2 separate regions of the Homo sapiens genome follow, and region 1 is linked to region 2. Evidence: fine-mapped expression QTL. Tissue or cell type: anterior cingulate cortex. Region 2 holds a variant in brackets; the other region holds the start of a gene. All regions are shown on one strand. Distances are from middle to middle.

The links. PIP is the estimated chance that this variant, and not a neighbour inherited with it, causes the effect.
Region 1: DHRS11 starts here. The variant in region 2 is fine-mapped to the expression of DHRS11 in anterior cingulate cortex (GTEx, PIP 0.99).

The regions. Positions count from the first base shown.
Region 1 is chr17:36,590,495-36,593,107 of GRCh38, reverse strand. It overlaps DHRS11 (dehydrogenase/reductase 11), which reads right to left and starts at 1,229. Exons shown (of 7, transcript NM_024308.4): 1 at 952-1,229. The coding sequence starts at 1,098.
Region 2 is chr17:36,023,731-36,026,486 of GRCh38, reverse strand. No RefSeq gene overlaps it. Among named protein-coding and RNA genes, the nearest start is that of CCL23, 7.1 kb to the right of the region's middle. The variant G/A (reference allele first, on the strand shown) is at 1,651.

The DNA.
Region 1 (2,613 bases), 570 kb before region 2:
GAGCTCCTCAGAATAGGATAAAGGGAGGAAAGAGTGGGGCAGTGATGGAGCCAGGTGACCTTGGGATTATCTGGGTTATAAAGCATACCTTTGGTCAGCAGCAGGGGAGGGGACAGTCCTCCTTCCTGTATACCTTCTCCCTCTGCCCCCACCCAAGGCCTCCTTACCCTTTCCCTGCCTGAGGACTTTGAGCACGGTGGAGATAAAGCCCTGCAGCTAAGCACTAGCCCGACACTGAGAATGAGCTTACAGGGCACATCCAGAGAGAGCCTAGCACAGAAATTCCTCCCTGCTCCAAAATGGCCATCTTGATTTTTCTCTGAGCTCTGAGGGCTCCCAACCCCACGTCAAGAGCAGAGTAAGGAGTTCCAGGTTGCTTTATCCTCTCAAGGTTTCCGCCCGATTTCACCCACTCTGTTCGCCCCAGGAGAGTGGAGGAGGGCCCACTAATGAATATTCCATTCATTCCTCATGCCACTGGGCATGAGTTACCCCCGAGGTGAGGGGGCGGGGCTGAGGCTCTTCAGTAAAGCTCCCACCCCAACCCCAACCTCAGTCCTGGCTCCTGCCCATCTGGTTGGCCAGCCACCTTGCCCTGCGTGGTGGGTGACTTCTGGAGATTAGAGGCACTTGGCCGCCGGGGGCGAGAAGGCCACAGGGGCGAGACCACCACCCCCGACCTCCGGCTTCCCCTTCCTCGGGCCAATACCCTGGGGAGACCCGAGGGGCGGGTGGGGAGATGCCGGGGTCGGAGATTCGGTAACTCGAGCAGGGGCTGTCAGGGCAAACGGCTCCTTCAAAGATGAGACTTAAGGGGAAGGGAGAAGCCTGCCTTAAGGGATCCGAGAGGCCGCCCCGACTAGAGCAAAGGGCCCCGGCGTGGCGGGCAGGTGAACCCGACTCCGGGGAAACGACCCGCCCGCGACGTCCCCGCCCTCGGCCCGGCCTCACCTCGATGTTGCCCACAGTGCGGGCGCAGCCCACCACCTTCAGTCCCTGCTGGACCAGGGCCCGGGCCACGGCCGCGCCGATGCCCCCCGAGGCCCCCGTCACCAGCGCCAGCCGGTCGCGCCACCGCTCCATGCCGGGCCTGGCCATGGGCCCACGCCGCCCGTCCGCCTCGCTGGACTAGCCCGACACGGGGGTCGAGGAGCTGACGCCCGGCCGCTCTCCTGCCGCCGCCGCCGACCTGCTTGGGTCCGATCCGCGCCTAGACCCACCAGAGTCCCGGCCTGCCTCCGGCCGGGACTCCACCCTCAGGCCCCCGGCGATCCGCCGTATCCAGTCGGAGGCCGCCGCGGCCCGGCCGCCCCGCCCCTTCCGCCCCTCTGCCCCGCCCCGGCGTAGGGAAACCGGGCTGCGCGGGAGCGTCCTGGCAGCTGGCGGCGCCGCTTCCCCAGTGAGCGCTGCCCTTTGGGGTCAGGGAAACCGAGGTTTAGCGGGGAGGTTCCTTCAGCCCCAAGGGCGCATACTGAAGCGTCCCGCTTAGTCTCCCTTCTCTACTCCTGAACCCTAATGCCAGGATGAGGAATTAAGGGCACTTAAGGTGACTCCAACACTCTTCCACACCCTCCCAAACCCGCCGGTGGCTGATGGGAAGGGATTCGGCCCAGAAAACGCCGAGTGTCTCCGCCATCAATGCTAGGTGACCTTGGGAAGGACTCATTCACCCTACCTGATCCCTTGGCTTTACTAGCCACGGAGAACTGAAATACTCCTAAGTACACGTGTACTGGGGTATTCTGTCCCTAAATGGCCCACTGTGTCTAACTGCCCTAGACCCCCACGCTTACCCCTACCCCACTGTAGCAAATGTATCATGATATATGCCAAAGATTAAAACAGTATCTAACATTTGCTGCTTATGGTGTAGCAGGCATTTTAAATATAGTAACTAATCTACACAACCGCGCTGAGATGGCACATATTAGTATCTTAATTTTAAAGATGAGTATACTGACGTGGTGAAGCATGGTTTGGACCACAGGCAGTCCAGTCTTACGCCAGGGATGTGCTCCTCAACTGTCTTCACATCATTATCGCTTCTCGGGTTGCTGGTTTTGTTCAGAGTAGAGCTCGCTTTACTAAAAGTGCTGAAAACTGCGTACTTAATATAGCCATTCTCTTAAAGAAAAAGCATCTTTGAATAACCACCTGACTCCCTTCCAGCAAGCAATGGAGTAAGCGGTGAATGTGGCTGGTTTATTCATTCAAAAACACTCATTTGCCTATCCTGTGTTTGGCCCCAATGGCAAAGATTAAAACTAAACTAAATCAGCCTTTCCTTTTAGGGATCTCAAAAGAACATTTGACTCTTAACAGTGGTGAAGAGGGGATTCACCTCTGAGCCAAGGGCTGTGGGAGACCCACAGTCATTTTTTAGATTCTGGGATGAAATCAAAAAGGGTCCAAGAGGAGTCCTTTTACCTCTGCCCCATTCCTATACAACATTTAGATTTGAAAGACAACTCAGGAGGTGGATCCAAGAAATGGCACTATGAAAATTCAATCTAAGTTTCTGCTGCTGCCCACTTGAAATCTAACTCAAAATCTGATTAAAAGCACATAAAATTCACTCCACCTCCATTGCACAGAAGTACTGATTGTCCCATG
Region 2 (2,756 bases):
TTACAGGTACCCGCCACCATGCCCAGCTAATTTTTGTATTTTTAGTAGAGACGGGGTTTCACCATGTCTATTGGGCTGGTCTGAAATTCCTGACCTCGTGATCCACCCTCCTTGGCCTCCCAAAGTGCTGGGATTACAGGCGTGGGCCACTGTGCCCGGCCTAGACCAATGTTATATGCCCTCAGTGTTTTCTCCCCCTGGCATCTCAACTCTGTTTTAGTTGGGTATGACAAGAATGACCCAATTGTATGGTCAACTTTTACACTGTGTAAAGAGTACACTACCCAGGATCTCTCTGTATTATTTCTTACAATTGCATGTGAATCTACAATTACCTCAAAATAAAAAAGTCCAATTTAAAAACATTAATGATCATGCTTATGTGTACATTATTTGTATACTATAGACACATCCAAAATGTGCCTCAATTTGATCATGTCCATGCCTTTGTCTTAAATAGTGAGGTCTAGTATTAGAGAGACCTTGGTTCAAATGCCAGCTTTGCCCTTTACTACCCATGTGGGCATATAGCAAATATTAGCAAATTACTCTATTGCTGTATGTCTCCATAGCCTCATCTGGAAAAAGAGCTAATGACTGTGCCTATTTCACAAGATTGTAGTTAAGATTTAATTATATAATAATTGTAAAACATAAAACAGTAAGTAGCCCATATCTCATTGCAACTATTTACTATCCTTATTGGCAGTTACAGCTGACTAGGATCTTCTTCCTCCCTTCCCTGCCTTTTGAAGCAGTATACAGTCTCTGTCCTATTTCTGAGACCTGCATCAAATGCTATCCCTTTCAGAAATGTTTCTCTTCATCCCAGTCCAAAGGGATGCATCTGGACCTCCCTTGAAATCTCCAATGGGCACAAAGGCTCCACAGCTCTGGATGGCAGAAACTTCCTCAATCCTCTATCTCTACCCTAACTAGAATAAAGCATCTTTACTAAGATTTATGTAGTCCTTCTCTAACAAGTACCTAGTTTAATTAAAAGCAACAAGCCTCAGCCGGGCACAGTGGCTCACACCTGTTATCCTAGCACTTTGGGAGGTGGAGGTGGGAGGATCACTTCAGCCCAGGAGTTCAAAACCAGCCGGGGGCAACATAGCAGGACCCCATTTCTAAAAAAAAAAATTTTTAAGTTAGCCAAGCATGGTGGTGCATGCCTGCAGTACGGGCCACTTGGGAGGCTAAGGTGGGAGGACCACTTGAGCCTGGGAGGTCAAGGCTGCAGTGAGCCGTGATTGTGCCACTGCACTCCACCCTGGTGAACAAAGGAAGAACCTGTTTCAAAAAAATTTTAAAAATAAAGCAACAAGCCTCCTCTTGAATAAGGAACTATTACTTTTGCGTTCAGCAAATTTATAAAAAAGATAAATCTATCCTTATGGCCCAAAAGGAGGATTATCAGTTAGCTTTTGCTACATCATAAATCACCACAAAATGTAGTGACTTAAAACAGCAAACAGCTATTCTCACAATTCTGTAGGTTGGAGGGGTAGTTCTCCCGGTCTGAGCCAGCTCAGCCAGGGTTTGAAGGCCTAGGATAACCTCTCAGCTGGGACAGCTGGGATGTCTGGGGACCTTTCTCTCCTTGTGGTCTCTCCTCCTTTGGTAGGCTAGCATAGGCTGGCACATGCG[G/A]TGGTATAAAAGTTCTCAGCAGTGAAATATTAATAATGCAAGTATCAATGCACCAGCACTTTTCCGGCCTCTGTTTTCATCACATTTTCTATTGTCTCATTGTCCAAAGACAGTCACATAGCAAAGACCAGATTCAGTAGGCGAAGGGACTTCCCAAGGGTAGGCACACTGGGTGGTAGGAATTACTGCACCCATTTTTGCAAACAGTCTATCAAAGGAAGGAATTAGTTAAATATTTAAACCAAGATCTAATTTCAGATAACCAGTGTGAGTTAGGAGAAACATTTGGCGCAAAACTGAAACCAATTCATTTGACTTGGTATCACCAAATACACATACAGTGGCTGGTATACAGGAATGGTCAGAAGATATTTAAGGGACTCCATCTCTGTGCAACCCTAGAGCAGTTTCAATTGCATGGCATAGCGCAGACTTTAGCTACAGGCCTCTTTAAGGAGACATTGTTTGGATTGGTTTTGTTTCTCTAAAAAGGACCTGGGCCCAGTCTTACACAAGAAACAAGAAGATGAGTTGGCAGGCTCTGTTATTCCCCTTATCACTTAAGAAGAAAGTTTTTCTCGTGTAATAGGCCATTTAAGATCATGCACAAGGATTCCCAGGCAAGATGCCTGAATAGGAACAGCTCTGGTCTGCAGCTCCCAGTGAGACCAACCCAGAAGGCAGGTGATTTCTGCATTTCCAACTGAGGTACCCAGTTCAGCTCATTGGGACTGGTTGGACGGTGGGTGTAGCCCATGGAGGGTGAGCAGGAGCAGGGTGGGGCATTGCCTCACCCTGGAAGCACAACACAGTCTTACAAGCCTACTCTGGACCAAGCGGCTGACCCCTTCTTCCAACCCCCTTCTCACTATCTCTTTTGCCTAATAAAGATGGAGGGCTATGTAAAGCTCAGGGCCCTTGTCCACTAGAGGCAAAGTGGCCCCTGACTAAATATATTCTTTTGTCTCTTGTCTTTTATTCCCACGTTCACCCCCTTTGTTCAGTCCCCCTAGGTCTGTATAAATTACACAAGGGGTCAGGGAACTCCCTCCCCTAGCCAAGGGAAGCCATGAGGGACTGTGCTGTGAGGGACAGTGCTATCCGGC